Homo sapiens: one gene and its partners. The protein of the gene in region 1 interacts with the protein of each later gene in a biochemical or structural test. Each region holds a gene or a part of one and is shown on either strand. Other genes may lie near its edges.

What was found. Proteins that work in one complex are often made in the same cells at the same time.
Region 2: of the proteins of USP33 (region 1) and ARRB2, one has a biochemical effect on the other in vitro, tested with the Homo sapiens proteins (2 studies listed by BioGRID, with this or other methods).
Region 3: the proteins of USP33 (region 1) and SELENBP1 form a complex in vitro, tested with the Homo sapiens proteins (one study listed by BioGRID and IntAct).

What each region holds. Positions count from the first base shown.
Region 1 is NC_000001.11:77,695,487-77,700,881, reverse strand, and holds the end of USP33 (ubiquitin carboxyl-terminal hydrolase 33), read left to right. Parts: intron 1-2,950; coding exon 2,951-3,019; intron 3,020-3,407; coding exon 3,408-3,565; 3' UTR 3,566-4,895; downstream 4,896-5,395. UniProt on the Homo sapiens protein: Deubiquitinating enzyme involved in various processes such as centrosome duplication, cellular migration and beta-2 adrenergic receptor/ADRB2 recycling.
Region 2 is NC_000017.11:4,705,969-4,713,650, reverse strand, and holds the start of ARRB2 (beta-arrestin-2), read right to left. Parts: upstream 3,020-7,682; 5' UTR 2,930-3,019; coding exon 2,907-2,929; intron 2,893-2,906; exon of another isoform or gene 2,878-2,892; coding exon of another isoform or gene 2,762-2,877; intron 1-2,761. UniProt on the Homo sapiens protein: Functions in regulating agonist-mediated G-protein coupled receptor (GPCR) signaling by mediating both receptor desensitization and resensitization processes.
Region 3 is NC_000001.11:151,363,785-151,369,715, forward strand, and holds the end of SELENBP1 (methanethiol oxidase), read right to left. Parts: coding exon 5,929-5,931; intron 5,771-5,928; coding exon 5,658-5,770; intron 5,406-5,657; coding exon 5,220-5,405; intron 4,536-5,219; coding exon 4,415-4,535; intron 3,392-4,414; exon of another isoform or gene 3,232-3,391; intron 3,121-3,231; coding exon 2,938-3,120; intron 2,670-2,937; coding exon 2,491-2,669; intron 2,063-2,490; coding exon 1,984-2,062; intron 1,901-1,983; coding exon 1,779-1,900; intron 1,498-1,778; coding exon 1,405-1,497; intron 1,261-1,404; coding exon 1,142-1,260; intron 922-1,141; coding exon 759-921; 3' UTR 520-758; downstream 1-519. UniProt on the Homo sapiens protein: Catalyzes the oxidation of methanethiol, an organosulfur compound known to be produced in substantial amounts by gut bacteria. Selenium-binding protein which may be involved in the sensing of reactive xenobiotics in the cytoplasm.

The DNA.
Region 1 (5,395 bases):
TAAAAATACAAAAATTAGCTGGGTGTGGTGGCAGTCACCTGTAATCCCAGCTACTCAGGAGGCTGAGGCAGGAGAATTGCTTGAATCCACGAGGCGGAGGCTGCAGTGAACTGAGATCATGCCACTGTACTCCAGCCTGGGTGACAGAGCAAGACTTTGTCTTTAAAAAAAAAAAAAAAAAAAAGATTCTGATATGTGAAAAAGGCTGCAACAATATGCCTAGTTAAAGCTTTTTGTATTTATGTATTTACTTTTTAAAATTTTAAATTAATAGAGACAAGGTCTTAACCCTGTTGCCCAGGTTTAAGTACAGCAGCATGATTATGGCTCACTGCAGCCCTGAACTCTCAGCCCATGCGATCCTCCTACCTCCATCTCCTGAGTAGTTGGGACTACAGGCATGTACTACCACACTTGGCTAATTTAAAAATTATTTTTTACAATTATTTGTAGAGACATGGTCTCACAGTGTTGCCCAGGAACTCCTGGGCTCAAGCAGTGCACCAACCTTGGCCTCCCAAAGTGCTGAATTACTGAGTTCTCTCTGTATTGTCCAGGCTGGCCTCAAACTCCTGGGCTCCAGCGATCCTCTTGCTTCAGCCTCCTGAGTAGCTGGGACTATAGGTGCACACCACCATATCTGGCTTTTCTACACCTTTAAAAAAATTTATTTTTATTTTGTAAGTTCCAGCATACATGTGCAGGATGTGCAGGTTTGTTACATAGGTAAACATGTGCCATGGCGATTTGCTCCACCTATCAACCCATTACCTAGGTATCAAGCCCAGCATGCATTAGCTGTTTTTCCTGTTGTTCTCCCACCCCTCATCCCTCAACCCCCACCAACAGGCCCTAGTGTGTGTTCTCCTCCCTGTGTCCTTGTGTTCTTGTTGTTCAGCCCCCACTTATAAGTGAGAACATGCAGTGTTTGGTTTTCTGTTCTTGCATTAGTTTGCTGAGGATAATGGCTTCCAGCTCCATCCATGTCCCTGCATAGGACATGATCTCTTTCCTTTTTATGGCTGCGTAGTATTCCATAGTGTATATTTACCACATTTTCTTTATCCAGTCTATCATAGATGGGCATTTGGGTTGATTCCTTATCTTTGCTATTGTGAATAGTGCTGCCATGAACATATGTGTGCATGTATCTTTATAATAGAATGAATTGTGTTCTTTTGGATATATACCCAGTAATGGGATTGCTGGGTCAAATGGTATTTCTGGTTCTAGGTCTTTGAGGAATTGCCACACTGTCTTCCACAATGGTTGAACTAATTTACATTCCCACCAACAGTGTAAAAGTGTTCCCATTTCTCCACAGCCTCGCCAGCATCTCTTGTTTCTTGACTCTCTCTTTTTTTTGAAAAAGAGGCTCACTTTGTCACTCAGGCTGGAGTGGAGTGGCGTGATCTCAGCTCATTGCAACCTCCTCCTGGGTTCAGACGATTGTCCTGCCTCAGCGTCCTGAGTAGCTGGGATTACAGGTGCCGCTGTCATGCCTGGCTAATTTTTCTATTTTTAGTAGAGATGGGGTTTCACCATGTTAGCCAGGTTGGTCTCAAACTCCTGATCTCAAGTGAGCCACCTGCCTCGGCCTCCCAAAGTGGTGGGATTACAGGCATAAGCCACTGGGCCCAGCCTGTTTCTTGACTTTTTAATAACTGGCATTCTGACTGATGTGACATGGTATCTCATTGTGGTTTTGATTTGTGTTTCTCTAATGATCAGTGATGTTGATCTTTTTTTCATGTTTTTTTGGCCACATAAATGTCTTCTTTTGAGAAGTGTTCATGTTCTTTGTCCACTTTCTAATTGGGTTTTTTTAATTGTAAATTTGTTTAAGTTGCTTTTACAACTTTTGATGATGACCATGCGGTTCACTTTTGCCTTAAATTTTAAAAAGAATGTATTTAAACGGTTTCTTTTATAATGCTTTTATTGTTCTTAATGTTACTTTGATAATCTGAAGCAAATTAATTGTATAATTTCTTTCAAATTACAAAGGAATTGCTATTTTATAGCATTAGTGGTACATTTTGACTTGTAATCCCCAAATGGAGAGTTAAAAAATAATTTCTGGGCCGGGCGTGGTGGCTCATGCCTGTCATCCCAGCACTTTGGGAGGCCGAGGGGGGTGGATCACGAGGTCAGGAGATCAAGACCATCCTGGCTAACACGGTGAAACCCCATCTCTACTAAAAATACAAAAAATTAGCTGGGCGTGGTGGTGGGTGCCTGTAGTCCCAGCTACTCGGGAGGCTGAGGCAGGAGAATGGCATGAACCTGGGAGGCGGAGCTTGCAGTGAGCCGAGATGATGCCACTGCACTCCAGCCCTTGGCAACAGAGCGAGACTCCGTCTCAAAAAAAAAAAAAAAAACAAAACATTTCTGTTAAACTGTGATGGTTGTGAACGAGCCTCTCTTACCTTCTTTCCTGGTTCTGTTTTGGGGGAACTAAGAACTAAAAACGAAGAAGCTCAGGAGAAGACATTAAGAATTAACCATAGGCCAGGTGTAGTGGCTCACGCCTGTAATCCCAGCACTTTGGGAGGCTGAGGTGGGTAGATCGTGAGGTCAGGAGTTCGAGACCAGCCTGACCAACATGGTGAAACTCCCATCTCTACTAAAAAAAAAAAAAAAAGCAAAAATTAGCCGGGCGTGGTGGTGTGTGCCTGTATTCCCAGCTACTCAGGAGGCTGAGGCAGGAGAATCACTTGAACCCAAGGCGGAGGTTGCAGTGAGCTGTGATGGTGCCACTGCACTCCAGCCTGGGCAACAGAGCGAGACTCCATCTCAAAAAAAAAAAAAAAGAATTAACTATAATAATTTGCCTGAGAAATAACCAGTCTGATAATGTAGTTATAGGTCACAATTTTGTCAAGCACAAAATTATGCAATTTTTTGTTACATTTCTTTGAAAAATACATTTTGATATTTTTTCCTTTAGATCCTCCAGGTCCTATTGACAATACTAAGATTGCAGTCACTAAATGTGGTAATGTGATGCTTAGGCAAGGTAAGTTTGACTCGTATTTAAGCTTTTACTTGTGAGTGATTTGTCACTGTTAGAAATATGTTATCATTAGTCATCTATAGTACTTTTTTATTCAACTGAAGAATGTAATCCATACATTAACTAGGGCAAGTAATGAAAAGCAGCCACTTTTTTTTTATCTGAGGAAAGGTCTTAAGGCTGTTGTTAAGAGCAAAGCAAAAGCATCTCTGACTTTTTAAGACAAGCCATATGTTTCAGCTTATAACAATATGGGCTGGTAGTCTGCAGATTCATGTTCCAGAAGTTCTCAATTATCCCGAGAAGATTCATGCTGGGGGGTACATTATGAACGCTTTTGCAATATGAATATATAGGTTTGTAAACATTATTTCTTCTACGTAATTTTAAGGAGCAGATTCTGGCCAGATTTCTGAAGAAACATGGAATTTTCTGCAGTCTATTTATGGTGGAGGGCCTGAAGTTATCCTGCGACCTCCGGTTGTTCATGTTGATCCAGATATACTTCAAGCAGAAGAAAAAATTGAAGTAGAAACTCGGTCTTTGTAATTTTTAGGATGTAGAGAGTTCTAATGAGGAATCATTTTCATGTGCCCTGACATGTACACATGCGAAAACATTCCTAAAAGCGTGTTTATTTGCTTTATTTTTTTTCATCATTTATCCCATTTATTTCTTCTTAGTGGGCATTATGGAAGAATATATTAAAATGTGTAATATACCACAGGTTGGTATATTTAGTTTTAAATACTTACCATAAAGTCTTTCAGTGTAATTTTTTTTTGAGACAGAGTCTTGCTTTGTCACCCAGGCTGGAGTGCTGTGGTGTTACCTCAGCTCACTGCAGCCTCCACCTCCTGGGTTCAAGCGATTCTCCTGCCTCAGCCTCTCGAGTAGCTGGGATTACAGGCACCTGCCACCATGCCCGGCTAATTTTTGTATTTTAGTAGAGATGGGGTTTCACCATGTTGGCCAGGCTAGTCTCAAACTCCTGACCTCAGGTGATCCACCCACCTCGGCCTCCCAAAGTGCTGGGATTACAGGTGTGAGCCACAGCGCCTGGCCCAGTGTAATATTTTTGAAAGAGGAGGGACAATTGTGAAATCAGTAGGTTATCTTTAATCTTTACACTACATGCAGATCCATAGTATCCTTTGTAGTGTTGTAAATACTTTTGCTTTGAAAACTTTTTCATTGTCCTAAATCACCCTGACTCTGACCAGTCTTTCAGTTCTCCAAAAGCCCAATTTAATTGTATAGTTTTGTCATGGCTTCATATAATAAAGAGCCTATTTTAAGTTGAAAGTAGTAGTCAGAAAATTGTTAATTTCCTAAAGCTCAGGAAACTAGGGTGTCACTTTTTTTGCACTGCAGCATATACACTAACTAGCTTATTAAAATTTACAAAATGTCTTTTTGAATGTATCAAGGATATATTTAGTTTGAGTGGAATTTGTCAGCAGATATCAGTAACTTATTGCCGCTTATATTGTACAATGTTAAACTTCAATTCCTGTAACCTGGTTAGTATTAATGTCAGTGACTAAAAAACTTAGAGTTAGTTTTAGGGCACTTTTTATTTTGAGAGCATGAAGTGTGGAATGTGTCACTACGATTGTTGATAAAGCTGAGGCCACTTGCAACTTGATTTTTTAAATGAAATAGATAAAGTCTTTTTGAATAATATAGTATGCACTGCTATTTGCTTGATTATGTAATGTCAAAAGTTTAACTATATTCCAAGTACAAAAACATACTGGATTACATTGAGGATGTTGAATAGCATTCATGATGGCTTTGTTTTGGTTTGGGGCAGCTGTCACCAGCTAAAGCAATGTTGTTAAAATTAGCTCAATAAAAATGTCTTTAAAATGTAAAACTTGAATGTTGAATTTATTTGATAGATGTTAAAGGTAAAAGGTGCAAAGTTTGTTAATATTAATACCTTCTTGCTGTTCCTATTTTATTTTATTTATCTATTCTTTTGAGACAGAGTCTCACCCTTTCCCAGGCTGGAATGCAGTGTCACAGTCTTGGCTCACTGCAACCTCCGCCTCCCAGGTTCAAGTGATTCTCCTGCCTCAGCCTCCCAAGTAGCTGGGATTACAGGTATGAGCCACCACACCCAGCTAATTTTTGTATTTTTAGTAGAGATGGGGTTTCACCATGTTGGCTGGGCTAGTTTCAAACTCCTGACCTCAGGTGATCCACCTGCCTTGGCTTCCGAAAATGTTGAGATTACAGGTGTGAGCCACTGTGCCCAGCCAGTTTATTTTAAAATTTTTATTTATTTTGAGACTGGGTTATGAGACTGGCTAATTTTTATCTCTTTTTTTGGTAGAGATGGGGTTTTGCTATTTTGCTCAGGCTGGTTTCAAA
Region 2 (7,682 bases), on another chromosome or scaffold:
GCCTGGCTAATTTTTTTTTTGAAACGGAGTCTCACTCTGTCGCCCAGGCTGGAGTGCAGTGGTGCGATCTCGGCTCACTGCGACCTCTGCCTCCCGGGTTCACGCCATTCTCCTGCCTCAGCCTCCCGAGTAGCTGGGACTACAGGCACCCACCACCACGCCCGGCGAATTTTGGTATTTTTAGTAGAGATGGGGTTTCACTGTGTTAGTCAGGATGGTCTCAATCTCCCGACCTCGTGATCCACCTGTCTCAGCCTCCCAAAGTGCTGGGATTACAGGCGTGAGCCACCACGCCCGGCCGCTAATTTTTATATTTTTAGTATAGATGGGGTTTCCCCATGTTGGCCAGGCTGATCTCAAACTCCTGACCTCTAGTGATCCGCCCGCCTCAGCCTCCCAGAAGGCTGGGATTACAGGCTTGAGTCACTGTGTCTGGCCTGTATTTTGTATTTTTTTAGTAGAGACGAGGTTTCCCCATGTTAGCCAGGCTGATCTCCAACTTCTGACCTCAGGTGATCCACCCGCCTCAGCCTCCCAAAGTGCTGGGATTACAGGCGTGAGCCACCGTGCCCGGCCTTAGGTTGCAGTGAGCTGAGATTGAGCCACTGCACTCCAGCCTGGGTGACAGAGCAAGACTTTGTCTCAAAAAATAAATAAATAAATAAATTAATTAAATTAAATAAAACCACCCAGTGATGGAGCTCCTAATATCTCTGTTTTACAGGTGAGGAAACTGAGGCAGAGAGAGGTCAAGTGTTTCAAGGTCACAGAGGGAGTAAATGGTGGGAATTAATAGAAACCAAGGCAGTCTGGCTCCGAGTCCATCCTCTCGATCAATATTACACTATCTGTCTCTGCAGTTGGCATAAATAGTTTGTTGAATTGAAGGTTATTTGCTTTCCAGTTGCTGAAACAATTTAAGCCTGGACTCCACCCATTGCTGGGAGGGTAAGGAAGTGTTTGGCAACCCCAGTGATCTGGCCAATTGTGGGCCTGTTCTTTGAAGCACCACCTTACTCCTTCCAATCCACTCTGCCTCAGCAGTGATCCCTGGAAAGGATCCTCAGATAGATAGCAGAAACGTGAAATCCTGCCAACTAGCCCATCCCTCTTCCAAGTCTACCACCCCATTCCCAGAGGACCCCAATGGGCAGGTTACCACAGTGTCTGGGTAAGACCTAACCATCTTTCCATCTGGTCTCCAGCTCTGACAGCTGGAGCATATAGGAGAGCAATGACCCTGGCCTTTGGCCCTACATGGTTTCTACCATAGGCCCAGTTTCTGCTACAACTTCACTTGCCCCTTCTTCCCAGAAAGCCAAGCTGTCCAAAGGTTGTAAGGCAAAGGGTATGGAGGGCCCCAGGTATTCCTAACCAATAAAAGAGAATACACATCGATATGGTAGCCGCTAGAATAAACACCCTATCTTTCATCCCAACTTGGGAGCTGAGTGCCGTGGCATCATCCAGGCTCTCCCTCCCCTTTGCTTCTGGTTTTCCTCTTTGTCCCAGGGTGTCCTCCCATTAGGAGCCCTGGCACAGGGCTGTGACAGCCACAATCAGTGGGCCAACTGGAGTGTGGTTCTGGGGCAATTGCCCTGGAGCAGCTGCAAGGCACTTGCCCTTTGGATCCTAACCCAGCCACCTCCTGCCAGGCTGGGGAGGAGCAGCGTGCATATACTAGGCTGGCCAAGGAGGCAGAGTGTGGGGATGACCAGGGAGGTGCCCAGTGGGAGCAGGGGTAGCTGAAGCAGATGTCCTTTCACACTTCCTGCTATTCGCTCCATTTCCTGTGGCCCAGAATTTCATGGGGGTGAGGGAAATTGTGCCAAGTTAGCAGTCTCCTTTGGTCCATCCGTCCCACTCCCTGAACCACATGACGGAAATCAGGGGCCTCCCACAAGTCAGCAACTTCCCCTTTCTCTGGGATGTTTAAACCCTGATCCAGGAGACGGATCATCTCTCTGATGATCTCTTTCTGATGCTCGTCTACTTGATGCTCAGAAACCCGGGTTCTCATACTCTATAGGTTGGAAGTGGGGTTGATATGATGTTTTGCAGAGCAAGCCAGAGCTCAGGACCAATTCCCTATTCCTGATACCCTCTGAGTTGAGGCCTACAGCCCCAACCTTTTCGTCTTTTGCTCCCGCTCCCCTGCGACTCAGGCATCCACCCCTTGCCCCTTGGGGGTGTTGAGTCACAACAGGAAGTGGATTTTGCTAGAGACCAAAAAAGAGAACTCGGGGTATCAGTGGAAGGAAAGAGCCTCGATTGCACAGAAAACATCCGGGGAGTGGACGCGCGCCCAGGGTGAATACTGCCTCCCCCACCCCCAGAGAGAGGGATACGATCTAGTTTCAGGGAGGGTCGCCACGCACTCGGCTCCCCCAAGATGAAGCTGTTGCTCCTGGCAACCCAAGGGAAGGTAGAAGTTTGGGTGAGGAGCCACCCGGCCCTCGGGACAGGTGTGGGCAGCGCGACTACCTGGGGGATATTGGATAGGAGGCTTTCCATTGGCTTGGCGCGAGTCTGGAGTGGATCCCCCCCGTCCCGGCATCCAGCCTCCCCGTACACGACCCCTCGGGGCCAGCCACCTGCTCCTCCTTCCTCCATCCCTGCATCGCAGCCTGCACGGGAGAGCCCAGTAGTCTGGCCCCACATCCCTGCGAGAACCCCGACACCGGTTTTTCTGATCCCCCTCAGGCCTCGCTTTCTGCAGGGGCCCGGGCATTTCCCCCCCACCCTCATTATCCTCGAGGACCTGCGCGTGCGGCCCCGGATGGCTGTCCCTAGGGACCCAGGCGTCCGGCCCCCAGATCCTCTCCGCTGCGCCCTCGTCTGGGACCGTCCCAGCCCCCGCCCCGAGCCGCCGCCCATGCCCCGCCGCGTGGCCCCACCTCCCTTACCTGGTCCCGGGTTTCTCCCCCATGGTGCGCGCGCCCGCCGCCCGCTCGGTTCGCGGCTCGCTCGCAGCCTCCTCGCCCGCTGCCAAGATCCCTGCTCCTCCCCGCGCCAATGCGCACGCGCGCCCTCCGCGCTCTCGCCTCTTCCCCCTCCCTCCCGGCCCCGCTCTGGTCTTGGGGAACCGGGGCCAGATGCGTCAGCCGGATCGCGCGCGCCGCGGCGCTGCCCGCCCTCTCCTAGCAGACACGCGGGGCCATTGGCTCCGCCCCCAGCCCTTCGCGCTCCTTCCCAGCCTGGTAGCCCTCCCCCGCGCGCGGGGCCAGCTCCCACTCCTCCCGCCCATCTCCCCGCCCCGCTGCAACCCCTTGAAACCGATTGGACCCCCCTAAACCAAGGCGCCCGCCTTCCAGGGGATCTAAGTCTTTCGATTGGCCTTCGGCATCCAGAACCTGCAGGGGTCTCCTCCCCTTTGTTTGCTTTCTCAGTGGCGGTGGGGGCGACCGGGCTGCTGGGGGCGGTGGAATGAGCTGAAGCGCCGTCTGGGAAGGAGGATGGTGGGGGGGAACACGTGGGTGAGCGGTTCAATTGCGTGATGCTTGCTTCAGTGCGCGCCGCTCACCTGCTCCACTCGGAGCGTGCCGCCTTCTGTGGCCAGCCCTCCCGCTTCTTCACTGCAGCGTGTCAGCTCCTCCTGGTGTTTGCATTTGATCTTCGCAGGGTTCCCTTTTCCAATGTCTCTGACTATCCATCTCCTTCACCCACCCATCCCAGCTAACATCCACTCACTCACCCGCTCCCATCCATCGGTCCATCTATGGACCCATCCATCCGTGCCTATGTTATGCTATTCACTATGCCAATCGATGGGGACACATACGAATTACCATGGCCCCTGCCTTCCTAGAATAGTTGAGGAGACACATACACAGGTATTACCCAGGAATGCTATTACAGAGGTCTGAGTCAGAAGACACAGCCGCTAACAGCAATTGGCCCGGGCGGGGGTGGAGGGAGTGCAGGCTGTCCAGAGCGGGGAACAGATGAGGACAGTCTTTCTGAAGGATGCGCAGAAGTTTTTTTTCTTTTTCTTGTTTTTTTTTTTTTTTTTGAGACAGAGTCTCACTCTGTCGCCGAGGCTGGAGTGCAGTGGTGAGAGGTGACAGCGTGCTGGCAGCTCTCACTCACTCTCGGCGCCTCCTCGGCCTTGGAACCCACTCTGGCCGCGCTTGAGGAGCCCTTCAGCCCGCCACTGCACTGTGGGAGTTCCTTTCTGGGCTGTCCAAGGCCGGAGCCGGTTCCCTCAGCTTGCGGGGAGGTGTGGAGGGAGAGGCGCGGGCGGGAACCCGGGCTGCGCGCGGTGCTTGCGGGCCAGCGCGAGTTCCGGGTGGGCGTGGGCTCGGCGGCTCCGCACTCGGAGTGGCCGGCCAGCCCCGGGCAGTGAGGGGCTTAGCACCTGGGCCAGCAGCTGCTGTGCTCAATTTTTCGCTGGGCCTTAGCTGCCTTCCCTCGGGGCAGGGCTCGGGACCTGCAGCCCGCCATGCCTGAGCCTCCCCTCCCCCTCCGTGGGCTCCTGTGCGGCCCGAGCCTCTCCGACGAGCACCGCCCCCTGCTCCAAGGCACCCAGTCCCATCGACCACCCAAGGGCTGAGGAGTGCAAGCACATGCGGACTGGCAGGCAGCTCCACCTGCGGCCCCCAAGCGGGATCCACTGGGTGAAGCCAAATGGGCTCCTGAGTCTGGTGGGGACTTGGAGAACCTTTATGTCTAGCTAAGGGATTGTAAATACACCAATCGGCACTCTGTATCTAGCTCAAGGTTTGTAAACACACCAATCAGCACCCTGTGTCTAGCTCAGGGTTTGTGAATGCACCAATCCACACTCTGTATCTAGCTACTCTGGTGGGGACTTGGAGAACCTTTGTGTCTACACTCTGTATCTAGCTAATCTAGTGGGGACGTGGAGAACTTTTGTGTCTAGCTCACGGATTGTAAATGCACCAATCAGCACCCTGCCAAAACAGACCAATCAGCTCTCTGTAAAATGGACCAATCGGCTCTCTGTAAAATGAACCAATCAGCAGGATGTGGGTGGGGCCGATTAGAGAATAAAAGCAGGCTGCCTGAACCGGCAATTGCAATGCACTGGGGTACTCTTCTGTTAGGTAGACCTTTTGTTCTTTTGTTTTTTGCGGTTAAATCTTGCTGCTGCTCCTTTTTTGGGTCTACACTGCCTTTATGAGCTGTAGTACTCGCTGGGAAGGTCTGCAGGTTCACTCCTGAAGCCAGTGAAACCACGAACCCACTAAGAAGAATGAATAACTTCGGAGACACGGCCTTAAGGGGGGTAACACCGCAAAGGCCTGCAGCTTCACTCTTGAGCTAGCGAGACCACGAACCCACCAGAAGGAAGAAACTCTGAACACATCCGAACGTCAGAAGGAACAAACTCCGGATATGCTGCCTTTAAGAACTGTAACACTTGCTGTGAGGGTCCATGGCTTCATTCTTAAAGTCAGTGAGACCCCCTACAAATTCTGGACACTGGTGTTGTGTCGGCTCACTGCAACTTCCATCTCCTGGGTTCCAGCTGTTCTGCCTCAGTCTCCCGGGTAGCTGGGATTACAGGTGTCCACTACCACGCCTCGCTAGTTTATATATATATATTTTAGTAGAGATGGGGTTTCAATATGTTGGCCGGGTTGCTCTTGAACTCCTGACCTCAAATGATCCGCCTGCTTGCGCCTTCCAAAGTGCTGGAATTATAGATGTGAGCCACTGCGCCCAGCCTCTTTTTTTTTTTCTTTTTTAGGAGATGGAGTCTCACTCTGTCACCCTGACTGGAGTGCAGTGGTGGGATCTCGGCTCAACAAAACCCCTGCCTCTTGGGTTCAAGCAATTCTGTGCCTCAGCCTCGTGAGTATCTGGTATTACAGACACCTGCAATGCCTGGCTACTTTTTGTATTTTTAATAGAGACGGGGTTTCACCATGTTGGCCAAGCTGGTCTCGAACGCCTGACCTTGTGTTCCACCTGCCTCAGCCTCCCAAAGTGCTGGAATTGCAGGTGTGAGCCACCGCGCCTGGCTGGGCAGAAGTTGAGAAAGGGCATTTCAAAGAGAGAGACAAGGCACGTCCTGTTGCGTAGTGTTGGTGGGGAAGTCTGGAACAGGCTGTGGAGGATTTTGTATAGCAGATGGAGTGAGATGGAGGGCCCCACAGAAGGACATGTGGAACCAGTACTGGTTTTTAAAGCAGAGGGGGTTGGGTGCAGTGGCTCACGCCTGTAATCCCAGTACTTTGGGAGGCCGAGGGGGGTGGATCACCTGAGGTCAGGAGTTCGAGACCAGTCTGGCTAACATCGTGAAATTTAGCCTATAATCCCAGCTACTCGTGAGGCTGAGCCAGAAGAATCACTTGAACCTGGGAGACGGAGGTTGCAGTGAGCTGAGATCGTGCCGTTATACTCCAGCCTGAGTGAGAATAGTGAAACTTCGTCTCAAAAACAAACGGGCCGCGCGTGGTGGCTCACGCCTGTAATCCCAGCACTTTGGGAGGCTGAGGTGGGCGGATCACGAGGTCAGGAGATCAAGACCATCCTGGCTAACGTGGTGAAACCCTGTCTCCACAAAAAAGTACAAAAAATTAGCCGGCATGGTGGCAGGCGCCTGTAGTCCCAGCTACTTGGGAGGCTGAGGCAGGAGAATGGCCTGAACCTGGGAGGCAGAGCTTGCAGTGAGCCAAGATCGCGCCACTGCACTCCAGCCTGGGTGACAGTGCGAAACTCCATCTCGAGGAAAAAAGAAAACAAAAAACCTCCGAAAAACGAAAAATGAGCCAAATATAGTGGCTAGTGCCTAGAGTCTCATGTACTAGGGAGGCTGAGGTGGGAGGATCGTTTGAGCTGGGAGGTCAAGGCTGCAGTGAGCTGTGATCATGCCACTGCACTCCAGCCTGGGGAAATATTTTTTCAGCACCTTTTATGTACCAGGCACTGTTCTAGGTGATAGGAATAGCATAGTGTAGGAGACAGGAGCCCTTTCATGGAGTTTGTATTTTAGACAAGAGATAGTTAATAAGAAAGCAAATTTCTGGTAATGACATGAATTATAAACAGGCAAATGTGATGGAGGCTGATGGGGGTTGGAGTGGGAGCTACCGAAAAAGAAGTCGTCTCAGGATGGCAAAATGGCGTTAGTTACATAGAATCAAAGGACAGTTTCTCCAGCATAATCAGCAACATGTGCAAAGGTTCGGATGTGAGAATGGGCTTTGCTGGAAAATAGAAGGCTAGCGTGGCTCAAGAATAGGAAGAGAGAAGGAAAAGGGTACTTGTGGTATGTGTTGAGGTCAGGGAGGTGGGTATGAGTCAGATTGGGTGGATTCTTTTAGGCCTCAGTGACGAGATGGGATTTCATTCTCATCACATTTGGAAGCCACAGAGGGGTTGAAGCTAGGAGTGACAACAACTTGTTTACATTTGAAAAGACCACTTTGGTTGCTGTGTGAAGGGACTACAGGGTGCTAAGAGGGAAGCAGAGAGCAACGAAGGCTTTGTAATAGACTAGGTGAGAGTGAATGGTAATTTGGACCGGAGCGGCAGTGGAGATGGAGAAAAATTAACGCTATTGGGTTAATGTATTTTGGAGGCCTTGAATGCCAGGACTTGAAGGATTGGATAGGAGGCAATAAGAGGAAAAACGGGCCAGGTGGGGTGGCTCACACCTGTAATCCCAGGACTTTGGGAGGCTGAGGCCGGCAGATCACTTGAGGTCAGGAGTT
Region 3 (5,931 bases), about 74 Mb from region 1:
CTGTAGAGCCTGCAGAACCATGAGCCAATTAAACCTCTTTTCTTTATAAATTACCCAGTCTCAGGCATTTATAGCAATGCAAGAGCAGCCTGATAAACCTCCCAACAGCTGCGTTCTCCCAGTCGTCTTGCCATCAGTGGAAATATATTACACTATACACAACAGGGATCCTGGGGTCTCCTGTGTGTGAGGGAGCATGTTACATTCTCTTGAGAGTGATGGGTGAGATTTTTAGGTTCATTAAAAGAAAGCATGGGTTAAAAAAAAACCAAAACTTTAGAAACACCGATTTACATTCTCTACCCCCAGGTCTCCTTGTGACGATCACCCCCAAAATTTTCAGATTTTGTCTGGCCATAAAATTGAGATTTGGGCATTATTAGCATCATGTTGGAATCACTGGTGTGAACTAGTTACCATAACCCCCACTGGAGGCCTCTTTAGCCCTTTCTTGTGCATGATACAAAGGGTAGGCAGAAGAAGAGACACAGGCCCTGGGCCCCCAAAGACAAGGCCATCTGAAGGACAGGGTTACGAGTTTATTTCTTGGTGCCTCCAAGAGCTCATGGAAAAGCAGCACAGTGAGCAACAAGCAACAGTGGTCAGTAAATGTATATGACTCAACACATTGCCACAGTCTCAGCTTGGCTGTGTGGTACATGCTGCCAAGGGTCGGGTGCCAAGAGAGAGCAGAATGAAGCCAGGTCCCCAAGGAAGTGAGGGCCCAAAATAGGGAGTGTGGGTGATGAGGGTGGAGTTCAAATCCAGATGTCAGAGCTACAATCGCCCCCAGGGTAGCGGAGCTCATGGGCAAGGGCTGGGCCAAGGGGCTCCTTCCCGAAGTCCACCAGGAAGTTGGGGTTCAACTTCAGCCCTCCTTTTACTGTGTCTACATCAACCTGCAGCATCACAGAGCCTTCCCTGGTGGAAAAGGGAATGGGGTAAGGGAGAGGTCAGAGGTGGCTGCCCCCTTCCCCTAAGATTTTAGGGGAAAGCTCCTGAGGAAGGAGGAATGACCAGGGTCTCAATGGGCCATCTGTGTGGTGGGGTACAGGGGTCTCCTTGAGGAGTCTTCAGAAAGCCAAATGACCCCTCTGGAAGAGGAGGGCTGGGGAGGAGAGCCCATGTGTCTGCTTCTCACCTGATGAGATCAGGGTAAAACTGCTTGTCCCAGGCACTGTACAGCGACGTGGTGATGTAGAGGCGCTTCCCATCCAGGCTGAGCTGGATCATCTGAGGGCCTCCAGCCACCCGTTTTCCCTTGGGAAAACCAGGGGTCAGAGCCCAGGGTAACACACAGATCCTAGGCACCACCCCAACCCCAAGAGTATGCTCAGCTGCTCCCCCACATATTCCTCAAGCATGGGTCTGAGGGGTCCAGCAAGTAGGGGGAGAGGCTCTTACCTTGACCACTAGGGGCTCTGGCTGGGACTTTAGTTCCTCGTCCTCCAGCACTTGCACAGGGCCTCCCTTAACAATGCTGCCTCCGAGGAAGAGCTAGATGGGGAGGTGCAGAGTATAAGGAGGACCATAGTGGGAGGCGCAAACATTGCAGGAAGAGCAGCTTGCCTGGCTGGAACCCCTCTCTCCTTTCAGACATGCTCTGCATGCCCATCCCTGGCCTGGACAGTCCTGGGCCTGTGCTGTCCCACAGCACACATGTCTGCTTTTCCTGCACCTCCCTCAACATCCTGCAGCTGCTTCAGATCATCCACCCCATCCCCAGCTTCTCTTCTCTTTCCTTCCTTCCCTTCTGCTCCTCCTGCCAGGGTCTCCACCTGTCCTGTGAGGCGGGGTCTCTGTGGGTCAGAGATGTCATACTGCCTCAGGTCCCCATGCAGCCAGTTGCTGAAGTAGAGGAAGCGGTCGTCCAGGGAGAGCAGGATGTCGGTGATCAGGCCTGTGGGCAGGGGGCGAGTAGAGCCTTTAAGGACTCTTGTTTCCCAGGCCAAGAATCAACTTTCCTATGCCCTAGGCACTCACCTGGCATTTCGGGCAGCAGCCAGCCCTTCACTTTCTTGGGGGGCACCTGGATCACCTTCTCCACTGACCATGTACCTCCCTACATTGAGGGGTGGAGGGTGAGGTTAGCTGGCAGAGAGGTCAGCCTATCAGAATTGGGGACTAGGGGTTAGATCTGGGTTGCCCAGACCTGGGAGGGAGAGAATAGATGCCCGGCCTTCTTGCCAGCAGGATCTAACTCCATGCAAGCCCCTTGAGGCAGGGGTTGTGTCTGCTTCACCACTGCATTCCCAGAACATAGCACAGTGCCTAGCACAGACATTCACTAAGTAGTTTTTGAATGAATGGATAAATACGGCCAGTTAGGGTTCAGGCAGAAGTTGCCCTAGCACTGAGAGAAGAGAGACAGGGCATGCAGCCTCATTTTTTTCGTTCCTGGAGACGCCTGGGAGCACCGTTACAGAAGCCTGCTTAGGTAGAGCTGCTGACAAGACTACTGGGAGGGGAGGGCCAGAGGGCGTATGTCACCTCGTTCTTGTAGAAGCGCTGGATGGTGGAGCTGAGTGCGCAGCCCACAAAGCCTTGGGCAGCGTCTGGGTTGTGCAGGAAGCGGATCTCCAAGGGAATAAGCCCATCTTTTAGAGACAGGGTCTGCACAATCTCATGGCGCTGCCAGTCCCATACATATAAGTGGCTCCCGTACAGTCCTGGGGTGGGAGTGGGGCCGGAGGATAGGCTCAGCATCAGAGGTTGGAAGGCATGGGCAAAGACTGGGCCACCAATCAGGGCAGAAGGTTAAGAAATGGATTGGAGGGATCAGGAAGACGCTTGAGCAATCTGAGCATGCGGTACATCCTATGCCATCTCTCTTAGATTCTGGGGCCACAGGAGGGAAGTGTGGGGGTGGGAGATTTGGAGCAGAAAGCAAGGGGATGTAGGCCCAAGGCTCCTGCTGGCACATGGGGGGATTCTCACCAGCCTCCACATCAGCGGGGTTGAAGCCATCTCGTAAGACATTGGGAGCTGCCCACTCAGTGCTGATCATGACATTGTGTCGAGGCTGGTACCAGAAGTCATAGCCCAACGGTGCAGCACCCCCAGGTCTCTCCCATGTCCCCTTCACCTCGAACGTCTCCCCATCCAGCAGCACAAAACCCCCTGAACAGGGAAGGAAGCAGGGTGGCAGGTAGAAGCAGTAGAGACACTAACCCCACCCTCCAGCCCTCTCCCCGAGGCATGTCTAAGAGGCTGTAAGCCCATTGCCTCTACCTCCACTGCTGGATTTGCCAGTTCCTTAAATTCAGGCATCCAGGGCTGGGGGAAGAGTGGCTCATGCCAGTAATCCCAGCCCTTTGAGAGGCTGAGGCGGGCGGATCACTTGAGGTCAGGAGTTCAGGATCAGCCTGGCCAACATGGTGAAACTCTGTCTCTATTAAAAATATAAAAAATTACCCAGGCATGGCGTCACATGCCTGTAATCCCAGCTACTCGGGAGGCTGAGGCAGGATAATCTCTTGAACCAGTGAGGCGGAGGTTGGAGTGAGCTGAGATTGCGCCACTGCACTCTAGCCTGGGCAACAGAACGAGACTCCCATCTCAAAAAAAAAAAAAAAAGAGAAAAGAAAAAGAAAAAAGAAAAGAAAAAGTAAATAAAAAATTCAGGCATCCAAAGGGTCTCATCCAGGTATTCAAATTTGGCCAGGTGGCAGGGGGGCCTTTACGCCAGTGCCCCTGTCTCCTGTCTACTTCATCTCTCTCTCAGACCACAGCAGAAACGTTTCTCCCACGAGATCTTCTGGGACTCAGCACCTGGTATTTCTCTTGTCCAGCCTCCCACTTTTGGAGTGGGATTCCTCCCAGAGTCTAAGCTCCATTCTGCTCACTACATTTTTTTGAGAGAGGGTCTCACTCTGACGCCCAAGCTGAAGTGCTGTGGTTCAATCACAGCTCATTGCAGCCTTGACCTCCCTGGGCTCGGGTGATCCTCCTACCTCAGCCTCTTGAGAAGTGGGGGTTATAGGCCTGTACCACCACACCCAGCTAATTTGTGTATTTTTAGTGCAGAGTTGCCAGTGCCAACTCTGTATTATCAGCAGACAACACAGAGATGGGGTTTCACCATGTTGGCCAGGCTGGTTTGGAACTCCTGAGCTCAAGCGATCCGCTGGCCTCGGCCTCTTGAAGTGCTGGGATTAGAGGAGTGAGGCACAACACCTGGCCTGTTTTGACTATAACTTTGAACTGAATTCATCAGTGAAGACTCATCTTAATAGAAATATTCAAAACTGAAGTTACTTGCTAACATTTAAAATACTGGCTGGGATCCAGCTCACTGGTTCTCCTTGGGAAGTCATTCCAACCCTCCCCTTCCATTCTGCTCCTCCCACAGAAAAATGCTTCCCACATTTCACAGCTGTGGAAGTTTTCATGAGCACACAGTGCTGGCAGGTACCTTTGCCATTGCCCTTGACGTCTCCCAGGGAGCTGATCATCACTTCCCCGCTGGCCAGGCAGTGGCTGGTGTGGAGAAAGGCCAGTTCGCACTTGGCATGGATGTCCTTGGGCTCAATGACCTGGAAGGGGTGGGGAATGGTGTCAGAATCATACAGGACTGGGAGTCCCTGCTCTTAACCTCCATACTTCCCCTACTTCTATCTGCTGACTCTGTCATCTTTTCCTTCAAAACATGGACACAACTCTCCCTGTGGGAATATGACAAAGATTCAGTCTGGTAACTTCTACAGAGCAGCAAGGGAAAGTCAGAGAGATTGCTAATAACTCCCCAGGCAGAAAGCGCTGACCTTTCCCCATGTGTCCTGAAGGCACACGCAGCCCTGTGAAACCATAAGCTCCTCCCAGGCTGGCCTACACCAGTGTCAACTCTGTATTACCAGTAGACAACACAGTAAATGCCTGGCACCAAAAGTGCACTAAACAAAGTGTTGGGAGAGACCGGAATTTTTAAGAGAACCCTGAGCTCCTAACTGCATGGGGGAATAAATGGCTCCCTCCCTCTCTCAGAGTAAAACAAGAAGCCTTGTCCCTCTTCTCCCATGCCCTGGTCACCGTGCTGGAGGGTGATGACCCAGAATGCCTGGGTAGACTCTGCTCTGAGGTCCAACCTCCCTCCCTGCTGCCGAGCCAGTTGCCGCGTAAGAGCTGGAGGCTGCTGGTTTAGGTCTGGCTTCCTGCCCGTAGACTACCTGGGGTGGCAGGTGTCTTATGGTCTACTGAGCTGGCAAGGGCAGAGGACATGCCTTGTGCAGCTTTGGGGCCCGGGGCTCAGAGCCCACGTCCACCACATAGATGCGAGAGGAGATGAGACTGGGCAGCACCAGCTTGGTGCGCGACTTGGTGCTATCACCGAAGCAGCTGCTGCAGGTGTTCCATCCTGAGTGATGCAGCTCGTCCTTCAGGTTGGGCATGGGCAGCCGGTGGATGACCTAGGATGCGGGGAGAGGTGGTGCTCCCCCAGGCCACGCCTCTGTCCACTTTTGGAAGAGGCGCCCTGTGGACTCATTTTGGTTTGGAAGCACGGCACAGGCTGGATTTCAGCACTCCCCTTGTCCCAGGTTGAGCGTGCACAAGCATCCCCAGGGAGGGCCAAGAAGGATGGAGCTGGGAAGGGGGGGCCCAGGGCCAGGGATGAGGGCAGCTATGGTCTCAAAGTAGCTGGCGCCCAAGCCCCGCCTAACCTGGCAATACTGGGGAGACTTGGGGTCAACATCCACAGTGGCCAGATAATCTGGGGCCTCAGTGCCTGTGTTTCGGTAAATGCAGGGCAGGTAGACGATCTCTTCCCTGGGTCCTGCACGGTAGAAAGCAGGCAGCAGGGACGGCAGGGTGGGAAGGAAAGGTAGGGGAAGTGCTGGGTGTGCCAGAGGGTGGGGGCTAGGTCTGAAGTCCCTCCACCCCCAGCTGTGGAATCAGTAGTAGGGCGCTGGCTCTCAGACCATGGGCAATTACCTT